Linked DNA regions of Homo sapiens: all the other regions are linked to region 1. The links come from fine-mapping of genetic effects on gene expression. A gene starts in region 1. Each other region holds a variant in brackets. All regions are shown on one strand. Distances are from middle to middle.

Region 1 (7,767 bases):
ACTCTGGCAACAAAGACTCTAGACCTGCACTGTCCACTCTAGTGGCCCCTGGCCACCGTGATATTGACATGTGCTGTGAATGGAAAATACACATACTGGGTTTCAAAGACTTAGTATGAAAAGGGAGGCAAAATATCCCATTAACAACATACATATGTGTGTGTGTGTATAATTTTTTTTTTTTTTTTGAGACAGAGCCTCACTCTGTCACCCAGGCTGGAGTACAGTGGCGCGATCTTGGCTCAATGCAACCTCCACCTCCTGGGTTCAAGCGATTATCCTGCCTCAGCCTCCCGAGTAGCTGGGACTACAGGTGTGCACCACCATGCTAGCTAATTTTTGTATTTACTTTAGTAGAGATGGGGGGTTTCACCATGTTGACCAGGCTGGTCTCGAACTTCCGACCTCAGGTGATCCACCCGCCTCGACCTCCCAAAGTGCTGGGTTTACAGGCGTGAGCCACCGCGCCCAGCCCTAACAACTTTTATATTGATTACATGTTGAAATATGTTGGATATATTGAGTTAAATAAAATATATTATGAATTAATCACACCTATTTCTTGTACTATTTTAGTCCGGCTACCAGAAAATTTGACAGGAATATGTGGCTTACATTATATTTCTTTTGGACAAAGCTGGTCTACACTATGAAAAAACAGATTTAAAGGACAGAGTTAAAGAAGGAGAGTGGGACCTCCCTTCCATCTTTGGTGGGGAGCTGGGGCCAGGTAGGTGCAAGCATCAAAGACTGAGCAATTGAGTCTCTGCATCCCCATCTCTGTCCCAGCTGGGCCAGCCAGCAACAGGTGCACTCAGGCCTGGGATGAGCACTCCCCTGGCCCTAGCACATCAAGCCATAGTAGTTACCATAGAGATAATAAATATTCCTAAAAACTGAACTTGGGGAAGTGGAGATGGGGAAATCTACCATAGAGAGAGGGGCAACCAGGCTTATCCGGAGAGGAAACCTGTGTCTGTTGTGTGTTGGGGGTGGGGTGGTGTGTGAGCTCCCACTCCAGGCCAGGAGAGGGAGGGAGGCACAGCCCAGGCAAGTGTTTGCACAGGACTTTCCGGGCCTTCCTCCCTAACTGCCCCACGCCCCTCTTAGCCACCACTCCCCACCTCCCTTTACCAATTCACCACAAATTTCCTATCTCATTCCCCCATGCTGACAATCTGACTCAGAGACCTGAGTAGAAGTGGGAGCAGATAAGTGCCAGCCCTCCCTGATCCCACCCTCTCTGGCTCTGCCCCTGGCAGAGGCAGTTCCCCTAAGAACGTCAAAGGGGGTGGTCTGGGGCCAGAAAAAAAACAAGTTGGAGAGCGCTACAGTGCCAGAAGTAGTACCATTCCTTCTTCAGCTGAGAAAGGGTGGGAAGACCTCCTCCCAGGCAGAGCCTTACTGTTAGAGCTAACACCAGCTTTGCCAGTCACTTTCCTGGCCATCTTGAACGGGGGCTGTACAGGGACATTGGTCCCCCTATCTGTGTACAGAAGCCTTTTGTGAACTGACTACAGGTCCCAGGTATTCTCTGATTTCTCCCCCAAAGGATGGCGCTTATGCTCCCAGGTCCCCGGCAGCATGGTGCATGCGTGACAGCGGCTGGCGTTTTTGGGAGGTGCTCAATATTCCTGCTCTCTAGACCAAAGTAAGTTTCTCTTTGGGATAGCTCGACCCAGAAACTGATGCCACTGGTACCCACTTCCAATTTCCTCCAGCGGAAGGACAGAGAGCCAAGGGGGGTTGAAAGCAGGAATGGGGGGAGGGGGAAGCCTCTGCCCTCCCATCAGAATTCTTCCCTTCCATTTGACACAAAACTCCATTCAACAGACGGGGAGACTGAGGCCCAGAGAAGGCACCAGGTGGCATGTGGTTTATGCCCGGGCTCTCTTCCCTCAATTGCCGCAAAGTTCTCTTTAGAGTCTGTCCAAAAATAAATCCTTCCCTCTCTCCTATCTCCTCTCTCTCTCTGTTGTGTGTGTGTTTGATAGCTCCAGATTTTACTAAGCTATAGTTACGCAGGTTCTGGGCCAGCATGCCAGGCACACAGTACTGCTCTCCTCCTGCAGGGAGCCCCTTCCTATGCCAGTCTGGCCAAAGTCCTTCCCTCTCAAAGCTCCACCATTCCCAACCAGTAGCAGCTCAGTCTAGGGCAAATTCTTACCCCTAGACCCACCCCTAATTGCTGGGGAAGGGAGCCAGCAGAAGGCAATTCCAGAACCACGTGCGTCCCCCAAAGGCCCAATGATCAATCAACTCACAAACGGGCAAACAGACCTAAACACACGCTGAGACTGGCCCAAGGTCACACACCAAGCACATTAGGAGCAAAGCTGGGGCTAGAACCCAGTTGTTCTATCGATCCCAATCCCGTCCCCAAGGCTGATTCCCAGAGATGCTCCCTGAGGATGAGGCTCCACGTCTCTAGCTCCAGAGGCCTGCGCCCTACCCTACACCCCAAGCACCATAGAGCAGGGGGAGGCGTCTCCAGGCCTCTGTACAGGGCCAGCTGCAAACCGCAGCCTGGGTCCCCAGGCGCCGCGGACCCGCCCCGCCCCTCCCTCCGCTCCCCGCAGCCCGGAGCCTTTGTCAGCCACGCGCTCACACACAACCGCGCCGCCACGCGCACACACACCCGGTCTCCCTAGCGCACACCCGCAAGGGGCGCGCGCACTCGCCGCACGCACGCAGGGGGGTGGAGGCGGCGGAGAAAGGAAGGAACTGACGGGCCATGGACGGACAGACGACCTGGGCTGGGGGAAGGGAAGGGAAGGAGGCCCGGGAACCGGCAGCTGGGGTCGGAGGGGGCGCAGAGACAAGGAGACAGAGAGACGCAGAGGAGACTCTTGGAGAGGAGGACAACGGATGGGCCGTCAAGGGCTGGAGAGGACGCGCGGGCTGCTCCAGGGGTGGGGACTCCTCTATCCCTTGGCCCCGGGTGTGTATGAGCGGGGAGCTGGATTGTACCCGTGGTGCACGGAGGCATCCCTTGCCCAGTTGTGCCTGAGCAGAGGGTCCGTAGGGACCTCACGTAGGGCCTGGAGATAGCAGGCCTGAGACCAAAAGCTCTCTGGGGTACCTCCCTCGAGGCGGGTGGTGGGATGGGGTGGGGTCTTGGTCCTCGGGCTGGGTGGGGCACTCGCTCACCTGCCACGGTGTACCTGTCCAGGTAGTTGAGCACGTTGCCCAAGCTGAGGATGGCGGCGGCTGCCCCCCGCCCGCGGCCCAAGCTGGCCGGTTTGGGCTGCTGAGCGCCGGGGCCCTTTGCAGTAGCTGCGCAGCCGGGGGTGCCGGGGGTGCCGGGGGGTCCGGTCGGGGCCCGCCTTACGCTGCCCGACAGCGTCTGCACCTCATCGCCCGCGGCCGAGACTCCAGCGCCGCCCGCGCCCCGCGCCCCGCAGCAACCGCTACCGCCAGCCCCTCGCTGCGCCCCCCGGCGCCGGCGCCGCCGCTCCGCGTCCGCCTCCTCCTCCTCCGCGCCGCCCGCCGCCGCCGAGGCGCATTCCAGGCACATCATGCCGGCCCGGATCGGGGCGGCGGGGGGCGCGGGGGGCGCGGGGCCCAGGCTGGGCCCGCTCAGCGCGTGCGTGCGCCGCGGAGCCGCCACTGCACCATCCTGGTCGGGCCCCGTCGGCTCCTGCGCTCCGGCCCCGGCTGCGGCGCTGCCACCGCTCAGCTCGCTGCGCCTCGTTCGCCGCCGCGGCTCTGACAGCTGCGGCCCGGCCCCGCCCACCAGGCCCGCGCCCAATCAGCTCCGGGCTCGGGCCACAGCCCCGCCCCGCACGTGCTGCCCTGGGGGTGGGGGGCCCGGGGACTGGGGGCCCGGGCGGCAGAGCCCCTCCTGCCAATGGGGGCGCAGTCACGCCGGGGCCGACCGGCCGCGAACGCCCGCGGGGAGCGGGAGAGGGTTTGCTCTGGCTACGGAGCTGGGAGCAGGGTGCTGGTGACGGGGCTCCCAGCACCTACTCAGTACCCTTCACCCAACCCCTGCCTCGGGCGTGGACTCCCGGCGGAGGCTCTGGGAGCCGGGCTGAGGGCTTGAGCCTAGCGTATCTGGGAGAACTGGAGAGAGGAGTCTCAGATGGCTAAAGTCAGGGGCGCCAGTTGGAGAGCCGGTGGCTCCTCCGATACTCACACGCCCGGATTTAACCAGTTCAGGGAGGGCCCAGAACCTAGACCTCCACCAGTCATGGTGGGCTGTGTCTCCCACCTCCCCAGGGCAACCCAGATCCAGCCCCCAACCTACCCCGGGCCCATTCCTGTGTGGGCACCCGGACCCTACCCTTGCCCCACAGAGTGGCCCGCAGCCCCTGGCGGGGAGAGCAAGGGCTGTGATTGGGGCCCAACAGAAACAGGATATTCAGAAGGGGCTTTCCCTCCTGAGGGACCACATCTCCAAGCTTCAGACTTCCAGGTATGTGCTAGAGAGGGTACAAAGCCCCCAGTGGCAGACAGGAGGCTGGGTCCTAGCTCAGCTCTGCCCTGGTGTGTGGCATGATCCTGAACATGACACCCACTCTCTGGGCCTCCATTTCTGTATCTGGGGGCAGATGGCAGGATGGGATTCAGTCTGGAAATCCACGGGTGGTCACCTCCCCTTGGTGGGACGGGGCGGGGGTCTGCCTCCTATGGAGAGTGGTTGGGGTGCTTCTGTGTTCCTGACATCCCATCACGGTTTCACCCCTCCTTAGAGGTGCTGTGGCTCTGTGACGATCTCCCCCTTCCCTCCCCCATTCACCTGTTTGGGGAATTAAAATCGAAATTAAAATCCTGTATAAAGTGCAGAGGACAGAATGTTAGAACTGGACAAACCCTCGGAAACCAGTTAATCATTCCCTGTGTTTCACAGACAAGTCCCAGGGCACGGACGTGACCCATTACGAACAGGCAGTGAAGCTGTGGCAGGGCTGGAGCTGCCCCAGGCTCTGGCATCATCCCCGAGGGCTGGAGCTCACTCCCCGCTAGAGGCTTTTCCGGACCCCACGTCCACAGGCAGGTGCATCTGGTGAAGCTTTCGGCCACAGTGAGTCATGGCATAGCCAACGGGTGACACAGCACGAGGCACCCCCCCCGCCCCCCTCCACTGTCTCTTGTGAGCAGAGTTAATCCCCAAGCTGGTGTTTCTTGGCGCCTTCGAGGTGTATTTTAAATTCTGCAAAGTGACTAAAAATATGCTTCAGCGTGCTGGGTATGAATGACTGTGACGGGAGGGTTAGGAAAACAGATTTCATTCTCAAAGTTGCCTGCTGCCTCTTTCCAGCTCGCTGAGCTCAGGCCTGCAAAGGCGGATGGGGGGAGTTCCCCATGGTGGCCTGGCATGACGGGTGATTAACAAACAAGGACAGAGAGCTAGGAGCTCCGTGGGGCTAGAACCCGGCCCCAGCAATGATCTCGTAAGTGTGTGATGGTGCCAGCAGGTGGACAGAGTCCAGCTGTGGGAGGCTGCCCAGCTGTGGAACTGTGTCTAGTGGTGAAGGAGGCACAACCACAACTCTAGACCCAAGCCCAGGGTCCCCTTCCCGTGCCCCAAAACTCCTCATCCCTTTGGCCACAGTCCTGTCCAGGTGGACACTTTCGGCCTTGACAGAAAGGGGAGCATTCTCTTTCTGCTGCCTTCCCTTTTCACCACTGGGAAGGTCCCAGAGCAGGGGAAGAGGGTGGCATGAGCCTTTCAAACCTGGGGGACCTCTGAGCTGCCACCAAGCAAGCCAGCCCTTCCCACTGTGTTTCACTGGGGTTTCAACTCAAAGGCAGCCTCTAGAATAAGTCCTTGTGTGGGATAAGGGGCCACCAAGGGCAGAGGGACAGGGAGGACAAGAAGCCCTTTCTGGTTGTGCAGCCCAGGACAAATCCCTACAGCCTTCTGAGAAGCTCTGGCAGTAACCTGGGGCTGTCAGACAGAGGACTGGTAGGGTTCTTTCCTCCATCTCGCCAATGAAGAAACTGAGGCCCAGGGAAAAGAAGTAATTTGCCCAAGGTCGAACACCTGGTAAATGACAGTGCATGGACTAAACCCAGGTGTGTTTACCCTCTAATCCAGCACTTCCTCCACTGCACGCTGCCCTCAGACTGGGCGGGATTCTGTTTCTTCATCAGTATAACAGGAGGCTGAACTCCGTGGCTAAAGGACCTTCTGATATTCATTCATTAGGTCTAGATCACAGCTTCAAAACAAATGGGGGCCGGCGTGGTGGCTCATACCTGTAATGCCAGCACTTTGGGAGGCCGAGGTGGGTGGATCACCTGAGGTCAGGAGTTCGAGACCAGCCTGGCCAACATGGTGAAACCCGGTCTCTACTAAAAATACAAAAATTAGCCAGGCGTGGTGGGGCGCGCCTGTAATCCCAGCTACTTAGGAGGCTGAGGCAGGAGAATTGCTTGAACTTGGGAGGCAGAGGTTGCAGTGAGCCAAGATCATGCCACTGCACTCCAGCCTCGGTGACAGAGTGAGACTCCATCTCAAAAACAAAAACAAAAACAAAAAACAAAAGTGGGGGGAAAAAAAGAAAAGAACACACACAAAAAAGAAAAAAATGGGGCACAGAACATTAATGGCCATTATTCAAAGAGCAGTCATACTTGGGAAGTAGTGGGATAAACACAGAAAAGTAGGTTTCCTTAGGGACTTTTGAGAGCCTTTACTATGAGAATACATGCTCTGAGTCTCCCAGAGGGAGATATAGGATGCCACGTTCCCAGGTGTGTGTGACCACAGAATGTCTTGCAAGACGAGAGCTCTGCAGGACACACTCTGAGAAACACTGGCCTAGAATGCACTTGCTCCTCCTTGGCTGGTAATTGGGAGCTCAGCCCATCTGCCCTCTGCCCATCCTCCCACATGGGAGTGTCTCCAGGGCTCAGGCCTCGGTTGTTTCCCTTCCCCCTTGGCAGCCTCTCACCTAGGCCTGAAATTTACTTTTTTTGAAAAAATTTTTAAGAGGCAGGGTCTCTCTCTGTCACCCAGGCTGGAACGCAGTGGTGCAATCATAGCTCATCATAACTTTGACCTCTTGGGCTCAAGGGATCCTCCTTAAGAAGGGGCTTCCTGATGCTGGGCGCGGTGGCTCATGCCTGTAATCCCAGCACTTTGGGAGGCCAAGGCGAGCAGATCACTTGAGGTCAGGAATTCAAGATCAGCCTAGCCAACATGGAGAAACCCCATCTCTAGTGAAAACACAAAAATTAGCTGGGTGTGGTGGCATGCGCCTGTCATCCCAGCTACTTGGGAGGAGAATTGCTTGAACCCAGGAGGCGGAGGTTGTAGTGAGCCGAGATCACACCACTGCACTCCAGCGTGGGTGACAGAGTGAGACTCTGTCTCAAAACAACAACAACAACAAAAAACAAAAAAACAAAAAACAAAAAAAAGAGAGCCAAGACAGACAGGAGCAAAGACAGAGAAACGGAGACTTTCATATTCCAGCCTGGGTGACAGAGCAAGACTCCATCTCAGGAAGAAAAAAATAATAATAAAAAATAAAAATATATATATAAAAAAGAAGAGTCTTCCTCTCCTGAGGATCCACACCTCAGCTTCCCAAAAGGCTGGGACTATAAGCGTGCACCACCACACCCAGCAATTTTTTTTTTAGGAAAAAGGTCTCACTATGTTGACCAGGCTGGTCTCAAACTCTAGGGCTCAAGTGATCCTCCCACCTCAGCCTACCAAAATGCTGGGGTTAGAGGGGTGAGCACCATGTGCAGCTGTGGCCTCAACTTTCAATGATCATCCATGTGACTATGACACCCCAACCTCCATCTCTA
Region 2 (7,767 bases), 74 kb after region 1:
TGGGCTGGTCTCGAATTCCTGAGTTCAGGTGTTCTGCCTGCCTCGCCCTCCCAAAGTGCCGGGATTACAGGCGTGAGCCACCACGCCTGGATAATTTTTTGTATTTTTAGTAGAGACAGGCTTTCGCCATACTGACTAGGCTGGTCTCGAACTCCTGACTTCAGGTGATCTGCCTGCTTCGGCCTCCCAAAGTGCTGGGATTAAGGCACGAGCCACTGCGCCCAACCAGTGTTCTCATTTGTGATAGAGAATAATAAGATGGGTTGGGCGTTGTGGCTCATGCCTGTAATCCCAGCACTTTGGGAGGCCAAGGCAGGCAGATCACCTGAGGTCAGGAGTTTGAAACCAGTCTGGCCAACATGGTGAAACCCCGTCTCTACTAAAAATATAAAAACTTAGCCGGGCGTGGTGGTGCATGCCTGTAATCCCAGCTACTCGGGAGGCTGAGGCAGGAGAATCACTTGAACCCAGGAGGTAGAGGTTGCAGTGAGCCGAGATTGCGCCATGGTACTCCAGCCTCGGCAACAAGAGCAAGACTCAGTAAGTCTTAAAAAGAGAATAATATGACGATGTTTCAGGGGTTAATTGTGAGGATGAACTAATATAGATACACATACTGTTTCCAACATAGAGCTTGTCATGTGACAAACAGAGTGTAGAGTATTGTTATTGTGGTGGTGACGATGATGACGAGGTCCTTGGCATCCACTGCCTGGTTCAGCCGCATACCGTCTCGGTGACCACCCACATGGGGTCTACAGTTGGTGAATGAAGGGGAAGTTCAAGATCATCCATGCGCACGTGCAGGCGGTCTCGCATCCTGCTTCAGAACCTGTACTCCGCAGCTAGACTCACTGCTCACTGGCCATAGGATCTCAGGCAGATCACTCAACCTCTCTCCATCTCAATTTTCTCACCTACAAAATGGGGATGGCCAGGCACAGTGGCTCGTGAATGTCATCCCATTACTTTGGGAGGCCAGGACAGGCAGATCGCTTGAGTTCAGAGTTGGAGATCAGCCTGGGCAACACGGCGAAACCCCGTCTCTACTAAAAATGTAAAAATTAAGGCCGGGCGCGGTGGCTCACGCCTGTAATCCCAGCACTTTGGGAGGCTGAGGCGGGTGGATCACCTGAGGTCAGAAGTTCGAGACCAGCCTGACCAACATGGTGAAACCCCGTCTCTACTAAAAAAAAAAATTTTTAATACAAATACAGATACAAAAATTAGCCAAGGATGGTGGTGCATGCCTGTAATCCCAGGATCACCTGAGCCCAGGAGATCAAGACTGCAGTGAGCCGTGATCGCACCACTGCACTCCCACCTGGGCGACAGAGTAAGACTCTTGTCTTGAAAATAAATAAATATAAAACAAATAAAATGGGGATAAAAATAGTACACACCTCATGGGACTGTTGTGGCTTGAATACGATGATGTTTGAAAAGTGCCTAGAACTATGCTTGGTATGGAGGAAGTATTGTGAGTGTTAAATATAATGGGGTTTTCCCCAGCACATGTAGATGAAACTTTGTTCTCAGCCCCTGCCCTCAGAGCCAAAGAGTAGTGGGCAGAGCTACATCCACAAGTGTGAGTGCATGAGGAGAAGGTGGGCACACGAGCACCCACACCCCCACTCACACACACTCATGCAAACCACACAGCAGTGGGGACCTTGGCAGCCCCCACCTAGCAGCTGCTGCCCCAAACAGGACCTTTCCAGGGTCCAGCCCTCACCTTTACCCAACAAGAAAGAGACGCTGTGGTGGTTTTCAGAGCCAGTCAGGGACTAGGGAGGGGTTCTTGAGGCCAGAACTCCCAGGAGTTGGGCAAGTCAGGGAGGCTAGGTGTTAGCCAGGAGAGCAGCATTAGAATATATCCAACTGGCCAGGTGCGGTGGCTCACACCTCTAAAACCAGCTACTGGGGAGGCTGAGGTGGGAGGATGGCTTGAGGCCAGGAGTTCGACGCTGCAGTGAGCTACGATCGTGCCATTGCACTCCAGACCGGGCGACAGAGCAAAACCCTGTCTCCAAAAAAAAAAAAAAAAAAAGAAGACATCATGCTGAGTGAAATTACCCAGATGCAAAAGATAAATATTGATTGTATGATTCTACTTATATGAGATTTATAGAATAAGTGAATTTTTTAATTAATTATTAATTTTAATTTTATTTTATTTATTTGTTTCTTTTTGAGACGGAGTCTCACTCTGTCACCCAGGCTGGAGTGTAGTGGAACGATCTCAGCTCACTGCAACCTCCACCTCCTGGGTTCAAGCGATTCTCCTGCCTCAGCCTCCCGAGTAGCTGGGATTACAGGCACGTGCCCCCCACGCCCAGCTAATTTTTGCATTTTTAGTAGAGATGGGATTTTGCCATGTTGGCCAGGCTGGTCTCGAACTTCTGACCTCAGGTGATCTTCCTGCCTTGGCCTCCCAAAGTGCTGGGATTACAAGCCTGAGCCACCGCGCCCGGCCATTTATTTATTTTATTCATTCATTTATTTATTTATTTATGAATGACAAGGTCTGGCTCTGTCACCCAGGCTGGAGTACAGTGGCACAATCTCAGCTCATTGCAATTTCCTTCTCCCAGGTTCAATCCATCCTCCCACCTCTGCCTCCCGAGTAGCTGGGACTACAGGCACACGCCACCATGCTGGCTAATTTTTTGCATTTTTTGTAGAGACAGGGTTTTGCCACGTTGCCAAGGCTGGTCTCAAACTCGTGAGCTCAAGCAATCTGCCCACCTCAGGCCTTTCAAGGTACTGGGATTACAGATGAGAGCCACGGCGCCTGGACTAGAATATGTGAATTTACAGAGACCAAAAGTAGAATAGAGGTTAGGAGGGACTGAATGGGGGCGAGTGAGAAATGGGGTCATTGCTTAATGGGCACAGAGTTTCAGTTGGGGATGATGAAAAAGTTTCACA[G/A]ATGGAGGGTGGTAATGGTTGCACAACGTGAGTGCATTTAGTACCTCTGAGCTTTACACTTAAAAATGGTTAAATTGAGGCCAGGCGCAGGGGCTCGCACCTGTAATCCCAGCACTTTGGGAGGCTGAGGCAGGCGGATCACCCGAGGTCAGGAGTTCAAGACTGGCCTGACCAAAATGGTGAAGCCCCGTGTCTACTAAAAATACAAAAATTAGCCGGGCGCGGTGGCTCACGCCTGTAATCCCAGCACTTTGGGAGGCTGAGGTGGGCGGATTACGAGGTCAGGAGATCGAGACCATCCTGGCTGACATGGTGAAACCCCGTCTCTACTAAAAATACAAAAACAAAATTAGCCAGGCATGGTGGCAGGCGCCTGTAGTCCCAGCCACTCGGGAGGCTGAGGCAGGAGAATGGCGTGAACCCGGGAGGCACAGCTTGCAGTAAGCTGAGATTATGTCACTGCACTCCAGCCTGGGTGACAGAGCAAGACTCTGTCAAAAAAAATACAAAATACAAAAATTAGTTGGGCGTGGTGGCACATGCCTGTAGTCCCAGCTACTTGGGAAGCTGAGGCAGGAGAATCGCTTGAACTCGGCAGGCAGAGATTGCAGTGAGCCGAGATCGCGTCACTGCACCCCAGTCAGGGCGACAGAGCAAGACTCTGTTTCAAAAAAAAAAAAAAGGCTAAATTGTAAATTCTATATTATTTTACCACAATTAAAAAAAAAGTAAATGGGGTTATTGTAATATCAGAACAGTGACAACATTCTAGATTCCCAGCTTCAGAGGCTGGTTAAATAAATTATGGTACCTCCAGGCCAGGCGCCGTGGCTCATGCCTGTAATCCCAGCACCTTGGGAGGCCGAAGCAAGCGGATCACCTGAAGTCAGGAGTTCGAGACCATCCTGGCCAACATAGAGAAACCCCGTCTCTACTAAAAATACAAAATTAGCCGGGCGTGGTGGCACATGCCTGTAATCCCAGTTATTTGGGAGGTTGAGGCAGGAGAATCGCTTGAACCCTGGAGGCGGAGGTTGCAGTGAGCTGAGATCCTGCCATTGCACTCCAGCCTGGGCAACAAGAGCGAAACTCCATCTCAAAAAAAAAAAAATTAAATTAATAAATAAATCATGGTACCTCCCTACAATGGGGCACCAGACAGCCCTGTACATGATGTTAGTCTATGTTGATCTGAAAGACGTTCAGAATTTGATGGTGAAAAATAAACAAGAGCCTACAAAATCCATGTCCAGGATAATTCCATTCAGATAAAAATAATAAAACACATCAAAGACAAACTTGTGAACTGGCCAGTCATAGCTTATTTGGCTGCTTTTTCTCGTGAATTCTGATACAGAAGCTTATTGGGGGCCAGGCGTGGTGGCTCACACCTGTAATCCCAGCACTTTGGGAGGCCAGGGCGGGCAGATCACCTGAGGTCAGGAGATAGAGACCAGCCTGGCCAACATGGTGAAACCCCGTCTCTACTAAAAATACAAAAAAATTAGCCGGGCATGGTGGTGGTGCCTGTAATCCCAGCTACTTGGGTGACTGAGGCAGGAGAATCCCTTGAACCCAGTAGGCAGAGGTTGCAGTGAGCCAAGATCGCACCACTGCACTCCAGCCTGGGCAACAAGAGCAAAACTCCATCTCAAAAAAAAAAAAAAAAAGCTCATTTGAGATGATTTTTAGTGGAGACCCTTCCAGAGTGGCTCCCATCAGAGTTTAAATTTATGTCCTTTTTTTAACAAAAGAAATGTCCAGCCTCACAGAATAGGAGGTGACAGGCTGGGCACAGTGGTTCACACCTGTAATTCCAACAGTTTGGGAGGCCAAGGTGAGAGGATTGTTTGAACCCAGGAGTTTGAGACCAGCCTGGGCAACAGGCCCCCATCGCTGCAAAAAAAAAAAAAAAAATTAGACAGGCATGGTGGTGGTGTGCCTGTAGTCCCAGCTACTCAGGAGGTTGAGGCAGGAGGATTGCAGGATTGCTTGAGCCAAGGAGGTTGAGGCTGTAGCGAGCTGTGATTGCATCACTGTACTCCAGCCTCAGTGACAGAGCAAGACCCTTAATCAAAAAAAAAAAAAAAAAGAAGGTCACAGGAAGTCACTCAGGAATCACTTTTTTTTTTTTTTGAAATGGAGTCTCCCTGTGTCACCCAGGCTGGAGTGCAGTGGTGCAGTCTCGGCTCATTGCAAGCTCCACCTCCCGGGTTCACGCCATTCTCCTGCCTCAGCCTCCTGAGTAGCTGGGACTACAGGCACCTGCCACCACACCCAGCTAATTTTTTGTATTTTTAGTAGAGACGGGGTTTCACTGTGTTAGCCAGGATGGTCTAGATCTCCTGACCTTGTAATCCACCCACCTCGGCCTCCCAAAGTGCTGGGATTATAGGCATGAGCCACCGAGCCCGGCCAGGAATCACTCTTCAGAAATCCCCAGGGAGTCATCTTTTATGTGATGAATCAATAAGGATGCTTTTGTCCGCAAGTAACAGCAGAAGTAACAGCAGCCAAACCAGGACATTCATTCGTTCTCTTGCACTGCAAATCAAGAAGTAGGCAGTTTCAGGGTTGATTAACTCAGTGGCTCCATGACATCATAAAAAACTCAGTGTTTTTCATCTTTCCCCCCTGAAATCTTTATAGTGTTGGCCTTTGATTACTTAATTAATTGCTATAAAACAAATCCCCCCAGAACTCATGGCTTTAAACAACAGTAGTCATTTATCTCTTGCATTTTTCAGTGGTCAGGAATTTGGGAGCAGCTGAGATGCAGGACTATGGCTCAGGGTCTCTTGTTGCCGTGAAGGGCTGCAGTCCCCTAAAGTCTTAACTGGGGCTGGGAGCTCTGTTTCCAAGGGGCCTCACTCACGTGGCAGGCAAGTTGGTGCTGCCTGTTGGCTCCTGTCTAGATGGGTCCCTCCACAGGACTGCTTGAGCATCCTCACGGTATGGTGGCTAGTTTCCTGCAGGGGGAACAATACATTAGGGACCAAGGCAGAAACTGCAACATCTTTTTTTTTTTTTTTTTTTTTTTTGAGACAGAGTCTTGCTCTGTCACCCAGGACGTAGTGCACTGGCACAATCTCCACTCGCTGCAACCTCCATCTCTTGGGTTCAAGCGATTCTCCCACCTCAGCCTCCTGAGTCACTGGGATTACAGGCGCATGCCACGACGCCCAGCTAGTTTTTGTATTTTTAGTAGAGACAGCGTTTTACCATGTTGGCCAGGCTGGTCTTGAACTCCTGACCTCAGGTGATCCAGCTGCCTCGGCCTCTCAAAGTGCTGGGATTACAGGCGTGAGCCACTGCGTCTGGCCTGCATCTTTCCTGACCTGGACTCCTAGGTCTGTACTCAGCTGCATTCCATTGGCCACACAGGCCAGTCTATGCTCTGTGTTCCCATACTCTCTGCTGCCCCTCCATGTGGAAGGGCATGAATACCAGGAGGGAAAGCTTGCGGGAGATCTTTTTTAAAAAAAGAAGATTTATGTATTTTATTCAAGCCAATTTTTTTTTTGTTTTGCTTTGTTTTTGAGATGTCGTTTTGCTCTTGTCGCCCAAGCTGGAATGCAGTGGTGCAATCTCAGCTCACTGCAACCTCTGCCTCCCAGGTTCAAGCAATTCTCCTGCCTCAGCCTCCCAGAAGTAGCTGGGATTACAGGCACTTGCCACCACGCCCGGCTAATTTTTGTATTTTTAGTAGAGACAGGGTTTCTCCATGTTGGCCAGGCTGGTCTCGAACACCTGACCTCAGGTGATACACCCGTTTCAGCCTCCCAAAGTGCTGGGATTACCAGCCTGAGCCACCACGCCCTGCCACGAGATCTTCTTGCAGGCTGGCTACCACAGTCTCCATCTTGAGGCTTGTCGTCTCACATATAAGAAGGTAGGAGATTCATCCTGAAATGTGTTCATGTGTATTTATTAGGGAGGAAAATCTGCCCTAGAAATTCCCCTGCTGGTGCTCCCTCACAGCCCACTGGCCAGGTTGAGTCACATGTCGGTGCCACGTCTGCAGGAGAAGCTGGGAAGGTGGGTGCCAGGGAAGTCTGCCTCTGTCTCTGAGGAAGAATGGGAAAGAAAGGGGCCACAGGGTAGCCGGGCGCAGTGGCTCATGCCTATAATCCCAGCACTTTAGGAGGCTGAGGCGGGCGGATCACTTGAGGTCAGGAGTTTGAGACCAGCCTGGCCAACATGGTGAAACCCTGTCTCTACTAAAAATACAAAAATTAGCCAGACGTGGTGGCAGGCGCCAGTAATCTCAGCTACTCGGGAGGCTGAGGCAAGAGAATCGCTTGAACCCAGGAGGCAGAGGTTGCAGTGAGCCGAGATTGTGCCACTGCACTCCAGCCTGGGGAGACAAGAGCAAGACTTCGTCTCGAAAAAAAAAAAAAAAAAGAAAGTGGCCACGGGATAAGCAGACCATGTCTTCGCAGATGGCTAACCACCTCTCAGCCTTGATGCTTGCAGGGCTGAAACGAGCTCCTGGTATGGATTCCCAAAGAGGAAGGGAAAATTTTAGGTTCTAGATCTAGAAGGTGGCAGATGTCAGAAGCTGTCCTAACCCAGGCCTCCTGGAGCTAGGAGTCACCCTAGATGGTGGAAAGTGTGCAGGAAATACAGCCACTGAACCCTGAGAACAGCAAGCTTGACATCTCAAGCCTAGAACCCTTCTCGCTGAGGTTAGCACGATTTCAAAAAGCATCGTTACCACCAAGTCCTGGGGACTGGTTACAACCAGGTTTCAATGGCGACACCATGTGGTCATGATGGGAAATAGCAGTCATGACCTATGCCCCGCATGGTGTAGGCTCTCAAAAGTTTCTGGGT
Region 3 (7,767 bases), 37 kb before region 1:
CTGTCTTTGGTCATCAGGAGTCCCAGCCTGCTTCAGAGTGGGGCCAAGAAGAAAGCACAGGTGAGGAAGGCAGGGAAGCCCTGAGCACAGGTACGGGCCCCCCTCAGCCCCTGCCTCCATCTGCCTGAGACGCCTATTTTTTTTTTTTTTTTTTAAACCATGATTTTAATACGCAAGCTGTTTCTAAGGCGCTGCCACTGGGGAGGGTGGCTGTTGCCGCCTGCCCGGGCATCCTGCTCTGGCAAGCACAGCCTGAGCCATTCCTGCAGGGGTCCCAGGGTGCAGAGACCTCCCCACCCCCGGTTCTGGGCTGGGACCCTGGCTCCAGGGCCATGTCCAGGGCTCTGGTGTTTGCCTGGGTTGGTGCAGGTTGATGTGCTGGCTGCAGGCAGGTGTGACCATCTCTCGTGCCTGCCACCTCTTTGCCCCCAGGCTTTTTTGCTGTGAGGGAGCCACCAGGGGGTGATTTAAATAGGTTTATTTCTTCATTTACAAGAGGAATATATTTGGCTTCTCTCTTAAGACTCTGAGATTCACAATCAGCAGCTCTAAAAAATAAAGGAGCAGTTTGGCTTCCGGAAGGAAGAGGAGGCAACACTCGGACCTGGTTCTTGTACAACAAGAAAACATCGCTGGGGCCCCGCTGAGGCTGGAGTGGGGGTGGAGGCTGGTCTTTGGAGGATGCCACCCCCACCCCATCCTCTTGTCAGGCCCTCGGGGTACCCCAGAGCTTGGTGGGTGAGTATTCCACCTGCTTACACACCACTGAAGCCACAGCCAGCCAGTAACTAAGGGGCAAGAAGAGCATTGTCCAAGCTGGCTCTTGGGGGGTCCCCCATTGGCCACAAGGCCTCACCCCCCACCCCACCCCCGCACCAGAACCACCTTGATTGCAGCAGAAGTGCAGGGAGTGGGTGACGCAGGGGGCTAAGCTCCCCCAAAGCGGGTTGGGGCTGGTGTGAAGTTGGCAGCTGCATCCTGGTGTGTGCATGGATGGGAGGTGGGTGATCGAAGGCCTGGCCCCCCCCTGGGGTCACTTGGTGGAATGCCAGCAGCCAGTGTTTGGGTAGGGGCCGCCTCTCCCGGGGCCTCAGCCTCAGCTCTGGGGCAGGAAGCTTTGTGGATAGCTGCTTCCTCCAGCAGCCGGAGCCCTGGCTACTGCCCCATGGATTCTGGGAATGGTCTCCTGGGCCCTGCCCCTGGAAAAGGCTCAGCTCAGCCTCGGGGAAGGAGTGGGGTCCTGGCTTGGGGGGTGGTGGCAGGGAGAGAAGCCCTGCAGAGTTGGGCTGGTGTGCACCTGCCAGAGACCTTGAGCCTGGGGGCACAGGTGGTGTACAGCTGCAGCCAGGGCCTTCACCCCTGGTGATGCCAGCTTGTCAGAACAGTCCCCATCTGGGACCTCCAGGCTGGGAGCCAACCCGAGACAGTGAGACAGTGTCCTCCAGGGAGTACCCAGAGACTTGGGCGCCCAGCTTCATTTGCCAGGTTGCGTCCAATATCCCCAAGGTCCGAGGCCCAGCTGAGCAGTGGTCCCTGCATACCAGGCCCTCGCGTGAGCCTCAAAGCCGGGACTGCCGCCCTGAGGCCTGGGCCACCTGCTCTCCGTATGGTCCAGGGTCTGTTGAGTCTTCAAAGCTGCAGATCGTGCTTTGCCCAGCAAGTTGTGTGGGAAAGTCCAGCCCCCTGGCCCTTCGTTCCAGGGAGGGCAGGGACTTGCCCAAGATCACATAAGCTGGTGGCAGGCCAGGCTCTCCCCGGACACCCACTTGGGGCTGTCTTCTTCCTTGGCCCCAGGGGCCCTGCGGCCCAAACCTAGGGCTGGGAACCTGTCCAACCGTGTGGCTCCAACACACACATCCTTCCAGGGTAACTGAGGACACAGCCTCTTCTTGATGCCAGGGCCACTCAGCAGGCCTGGGCCAGAGAGGGTGGGTGCCTAGCCGTGGATCACACAGAAAGCTTTGGGGCAGCCCAGCCGGTCCCGGACGCTGTAGGACACCTCCCAGACGAGGTGGGAGTGTGGGTTCTTCATTGTCCCAATGGCACCTGGGGAAAGGGGTGTCAGGTCAGCAGTGGGGCTTAGTGGGGCCTGTGCCAAGGCTGCCCTCCCTCCTTCCCTTTTCTTGCTGTTTGGAGACGCAAGCCTTCTCCTGGACCTGCAGCTGTGACCCTGGGTCTCGTGCTGCTGGGAAGCTATAACTCCCAGAGGGAAGGGCCAAGGAGTCAGGCCCTGGTACATCCAGGAGGATTTGGGAGAACAGAAGTCCGGACAGAGTGAGGAGTTCCTGGCCAGTCCTGGCCCTGATCTATGCGAGGCCCCACCCAGCCCTTGAAAGGAAGGAAAGGGGAGCTAATTTACTGGAAGGAGCAGCCTGCTGTCCCACCCATGGCTCCATCAGTAAATTCTGGCAACATCTTCAGAGACAAAGCCCAGAGTTGGTGGGATGTGCTGGGGTAGGAGGTGACTCTGGAGGAAAAGTGCTCCCTGTTGCCTAACCCTGGCCTTCCCCTTTCCTTAGGGAGCCCCCACGTGCCTCCCGGCCTGCACTCACCACCTCAGACTTTCACAGATGCGGGCGGCATCGCCAGCTGGTTCACCCTGGGGGAGAGACGGGCGGGGGTCAGGGTGGTGCATCAGCGGGGGCCGGGCCCGGGCACTGCTCTGGCACATCGTGTCGTGGGGGCCAGCTGACCGGAGGTGCTGGGCAGGGACCTCGTCAGCCCCAGGGGGAGATGGGAGAGCCCAGGGGTGGGGAGAGGAGAGAGAGAGGAGTAAAGAGGAAAGGAGAAAGAAGTCAGAAAGTAAGAGGAAGGGGAGGGGCCCCAGCTTTGAAAACCACTAAGTCCAGAGACAAACCCAAGTCTGGATCCACCAGACACCCCCGTGGCCTCCCACAGCTCCAGGCTGACCCTGGCACTGGGCCTCAGGGCTGGACCCCAGCAACCAGTGGGTGCACTGAGTGCATGGGAGGTCTGTACCCTCCCCGCCCCACCCCAGGGCAGGGCTCACGGTGGCTATCACGGTCCCTGCTTCCCGGCGGTGCAGCAGGGCCTCCCCTCCCCCCCACTCACTGCTGCTCAGCCCTGGCGCGGTCGCTGACGAAGAAGAGCGCAGTGGCGAGGAAGAACATGCCGCCCAGGACCACGACGAAAGGGCAGAGCATGAGCGCGTAGCCCAGGCTCAGGAACTCCCAGAGCGGGGAGTCCTTAGTGCTCTGGCGGATCAGGTCTGAGATCTGCGAGGATTTGGGGGTGGATGTCAGGGCAGAGCCCTCCTGCAGTCCCCCAGCCTGCCCTGGCCAGCCCCACCCCGGGGCTACTCACAAAGCCAATGAGGTAGGGGCTCCCGGCGTCCCCCAGCAGGTGGGAGGTGAAGCTCTGCAAGGCCACGGCAGTGGCGCGCCGCGTGGGGATGACCACGTACTGCGGAACAGGCGGGCAGGTCAGCGGCCAGAGGAGAAAGGCTCACGCGCTTGGCCCTGGCCCCGGGCCGTGGCACTTCTGAAGCCCCCACACCCTCAGACTCACTCCTGCCCTACGTCTTGACACCTCTCTCCCCTGGGCCCTGCCCTCCTCCCCACAGTCCCCTCTACTGCCCACCCCACCAGCCTGGCTGCTTCTCTCCTGCCAGTCACCCTTCTCCTCCCTGAGCCCCTCCCACCCACACACAGCTGCAGTCACCCTCACCCCAGGGGCTTCCACACCTCCAACCCAGACCACTGCGACCTGCCCCATACTGAAAGCGTCATTGGCCTCAAACCTGCTGTGCCCCCAGCACACCCCTCTGAAATTGGAATCTTCACCTCCCTCCCAGCTACATGCAGTTAAGGAATGATACTTTGGGGGTTGCCCAGGCGCCAGTCACTAGAGGCCATTAGCCCAGAGCCCTCCGAGCCTCGGAGTACCCGAGCCATCAGGAACGGCCATGCTGCTGCCTCTCCAGCGCGGCTCCTGCTCCATTCCTGAGACCAGGGTGCCTTGGCTTCTGCCCTTGGACCTGGGTCACGGGGACACTGAGGTCTAGAGAGGCACATGTTCCCGAGGGAACCTGAACCCCCGCCACAGCCATTTGTCCTCACCTCCCATCAAGCTAAAGACCCATCTTGGTTCCCCTCCCTGAGGACCAAGCCAGGCCTCGACTGGCCTGGGACAGGAGCTGGTGAGGCAGGCCCCTGCCTGCAAGAGCCTCCGCTCGCACCCGCGGGCACCCTCAGCACCAAATGCCGGCACTGCTGGGCCCCAGACCCCCATCAGACCAAGCAGGCCCCAACCTACAGGAGGTTGGCTTCAAAGCTGGGCAGGCCAGAGTCAGACAGGAGGGGCTGGGGTGGGGGCGGGACAGGCACAGCCAGCTCTGTGGGTGCCCAGGCAGCCCCTGTTCCCCGAGCTCCAGCTGCCTCGCCTCTTTGGAGTGCCAGCCTTAGTGGGCATTGTGTGCAAGCAACCAGCACCCACGGGGCACCCCGTTGCGGGAGAGGTGGGGGGCGGGTGGAAAAGGGCCTGAATCTGATGAAACGAGTGGCCCTGTTTCCAGCAGGAATAAACTGTTACACTTAATAAACCGGGACGCGATTTCCCCGGGACCCTGACCCTGCCGGCAGCTGTCAGGCGCTCCCTGGGGGTGGAGGCAGGAGAGGGGGTCCTGCCCAGCACCAAGAGCACTTAATCTGCACGGACTCCTCCCTTCACTCTGGGCCTGTGCAGTGACCCTGGCGCACCCCTGCCACCGCCTGGCTCCGTGCTGAGGCTCTGAACTGCGCCAGGCCTCCCCACCACCACCGCAGCCCATGGACTCGGGAGGACACAGAGCCACCCCAGGGGGAAGCGGATACGCCCGGAG[G/C]CTCAGGGTGGGGTAAGGCAGGCTTCCCGAAGTGCAGGGGCCGCAGTGCCTGGCACACTCATCTCCCGGGCTGTCCCATGCTGGGGCACCCAAACCCGGGCACCCTGAGAATCCACCCGAGTCCTTCCTCTCTGCCCCAGAGCCTGCCCTGACACCTCCCAGACACTCTCTCCTGTCCCCTCCTGACCCTGGCCAGGCTGACCCTTGGGCACAGGACCAAGTGTCACACTCACCCCTGCCACGCCCAGAGGGCCATGAACTCCTAGCTCCACTCCTGGCTCCTCCCAGGGTGCTCCCATCCCCACCCAGGGACACAAGCCCCTGCTGGCCGCTCAAGACAGCCCTTTGTCCCCAGCTGGCTGGGCTAGAGCCCATTGTTGGCCCTGTGAAGACAGCCTCTGTCCGCCCAGCCCCAGCCGCAGGCACGCCTGGGAGCCAGGCTGAGTAGAGAGGGCAGAGCCTATGGATGCTCAGACCCAGCGGGGGGAGGAGGGCGGGCAGGCAGCGCCACCTCAGTGCCAGCCTGGCACCGCCAGCCTCCCAGCCACTAACCTGAGCCTCGAGATGCCCCCTCCCCCTCAGTCTCCACATGGTGCTCTGTCTGCCTGCCCAACCCTGTTTTCCAGCCCTGGCCAGAGGCAGACCCCAAACTCTCTGATCCCCTCCCTGCCTCTGGGTTCACGTTCCTGGCAGGCCTGCCTTCCTACCAGCTCTCCCGCCCCTTCACCCGCCCTCCCCAGGCACCCCTGTGAGGTCAAGAGGCCTGGGTCAGCAGCACAAGGTGACCTCGGCCTGCCTGGCTCACCATGAGGATGTCTGCAGTGATGGCCCAGTTAGAAAACAGCAGCGTCTCCCCGACGAAGATACAGATCTGCCGGGGAGAAGGCAAAGCCACCATCAGCGGTCCCTCCATCCGCAGCAACCACAGTCTCTGTTCCCTACACACTGGCTGCTGGCAGGGAGCCCACAAAACCTCACACCCCTCCCGGGCCCACATCCATTCATGGGCTATCCAGAGACTTCAAGCCATGCCCACGGCCCTGAGGCACCCAGAGGCCCTGGACAGGCTGTGTGTGGCCAGGCTGGGGATGAGCAGGGGCAGCCAGAGAATAGGAGCCTCCCCGAGGGAAGGGAACATCCAGTAAGTCAGACCGAATGTCCTGTTCCAGACCCTCCCGCGGCCCAGGCCCAGCTCCCCCAGCACCCTTGACCCCCGCTGCACTCACATAGGCTCCTACGATGCTGCTCTTGGCAGCCACGAAGATCAGGCAGATGAAGATGGCAGAGCCCAGCATGCCCACGGCACACACCAGTGGGTCGGCCCGCTGGGTCTTCAGGCGGCACCAGCGCGTGGCTCCTGCCCCCGTGACCACGCCCAGAAATCCCGTAAAGCAGGTGATGGCCCCAAAGATGAGGCTGTGGGGACAGAGGATGGTGGCGCACGAGTTGAGGCGGCTCAGGGCTAAGGCTGAGGGGCTCTCCTGTCCGAGGTCCCTCACCAGCCCTGGGCCCACCCCGCGGGGCCCCACCTGTCCTTGGCCCCACAGGGCGGGCTGTTGCACGTCTCTGCTGTCTTCTGCACAACTTGGGCGCGGTGCAGGTAGAGCGGGATCCACATGCCCAGGGCCCCCGTGGCGAAGGAGACAGCCGACGTGGCCAGGGAGGAGAAGACGTAGCTGCGGCTGGGGAGAGGCCAGGCAGTGACACTGAGCTCAGGGACCTCCTTCACCCCCCTAGGCAGCCCCATGCACTGGGGGAACAGGAGGCCCCCAAATGCCTCGTCTTACAGGCTCCAGGGGTGAGGGTTCAGGCTGCAGGAATAATCGATTCTGGGGCCAAAATGTCCCTCCCAGCACTGAGACAGCAGAGGTGGGGTGTCTGGCTGAGGGTGCTAGTGGGCTGCCCTGCAGGGACAGGCCCTCTCATCTCAGCACCCCTCTCTCTTCCCACCAGACCCCTTCCCGCGGTACTCACTTTCGAATCAGGGCCTTCATATCTCGGAGCCATGAGGTCCGGGCCTTGAGCTGGTCCCCGAGCTGGTCGGCATGACCCCTTTTAGTGGCTGGGACCAGAATGAGGATGAGTGTTCCTGTGATCATGCCCAGGACAGGGGACACCTGCCAGAGAGCAGGAAGTTAGGACACCAGGGCCCAGTGAGCCTCGTCCCTGCTGCAGAAGGAGGGACTCAGGCAAGCCCATGCCTTCTCTGGGCCATAGGCTTCTCCTCTGAGCAGGTATCTGCCCAGCCTTCCTAATTGGGCTGCTGAGAAAAGCTGGGGCTGAGGTCGGTCAAGAGACTGGAGGCTTGAGATGGCCTGTCCAGACCAGGGGCAGGACCAGAGGTGGGAAGGTGCAGGGAAGCCAGACAGACTGAAGGAAGAAGGAGGGGTGGGTGAGTGGAGCAGTGGGTGGATAGATAGAGAAGAGATGGCTAAAGAGGTTGATGGAGAGATGGACAGAGATAGATGGAGGGATGGACGGATAGATGGACAGATGGACAGACGGATGGACAGATGGATGAACGGATAGATAGACGGACGGATGGTGGATGGATGGACAGACGGATGGAAAATAAGTAGATAGCCAGATGGGATGATGACTTTGAGGGAGGAGAAAATTCCTGGAGCAGGTTCCCCACGTAGGTTCCTCAGCCGCAGGGCCCTGGGAAGGTGCTGTTTGGGTATGAAGCGCTGGACTGACAGATCAAGTGGGCTGGCATTTGGTGGGGGCCCGATGCAGGCCCCACAGAGGCTCCCGAGCCCTTTTGGATCTTCCCCGTTTCCAGCCCATTTTCCAGAACAGAACCTCCAAGGCCCCAGGCTTCTCTCCGGGTGGGAGGGTAACACCCTGGCAGCCTGGATTCCATCTCACCAGCCCCGCAGAACACTCTCCCCCATGCCCCCGGGACTGGGAGCCCCTGGGTTGGG

The links.
Region 2: its variant is fine-mapped to the expression of SPNS2 in whole blood (INTERVAL, PIP above 0.99).
Region 3: its variant is fine-mapped to the expression of SPNS2 in whole blood (TOPMed, PIP above 0.99).

The regions. Positions count from the first base shown.
Region 1 is chr17:4,494,801-4,502,567 of GRCh38, reverse strand. SPNS2 (SPNS lysolipid transporter 2, sphingosine-1-phosphate) reads right to left here and starts at 3,687. Exons shown (of 13, transcript NM_001124758.3): 1 at 3,151-3,687. The coding sequence starts at 3,520. It overlaps SPNS2-AS1 (SPNS2 antisense RNA 1), which reads left to right and starts at 3,833. Exons shown (of 3, transcript XR_001752763.2): 1 at 3,833-4,417; 2 at 4,853-5,026. RefSeq lists enhancers at 2,253-2,887, 2,888-3,523 and silencers at 3,565-3,614, 3,675-3,824, 3,835-3,894.
Region 2 is chr17:4,420,716-4,428,482 of GRCh38, reverse strand. No RefSeq gene overlaps it. Among named protein-coding and RNA genes, the nearest start is that of SPNS3, 9.3 kb to the left of the region's middle. RefSeq lists a silencer at 7,594-7,767. The variant G/A (reference allele first, on the strand shown) is at 2,932.
Region 3 is chr17:4,531,732-4,539,498 of GRCh38, reverse strand. SPNS2 (SPNS lysolipid transporter 2, sphingosine-1-phosphate) reads right to left here. Exons shown (of 13, transcript NM_001124758.3): 6 at 6,815-6,957; 7 at 6,370-6,522; 8 at 6,067-6,256; 9 at 5,646-5,711; 10 at 3,325-3,423; 11 at 3,073-3,236; 12 at 2,553-2,599; 13 at 464-2,046. The coding sequence ends at 2,557. MYBBP1A (MYB binding protein 1a) reads left to right here. Exons shown (of 26, transcript NM_014520.4): 26 at 1-595. The coding sequence ends at 84. Among named protein-coding and RNA genes, the nearest start is that of MYBBP1A, 20 kb to the left of the region's middle. The variant G/C (reference allele first, on the strand shown) is at 4,841.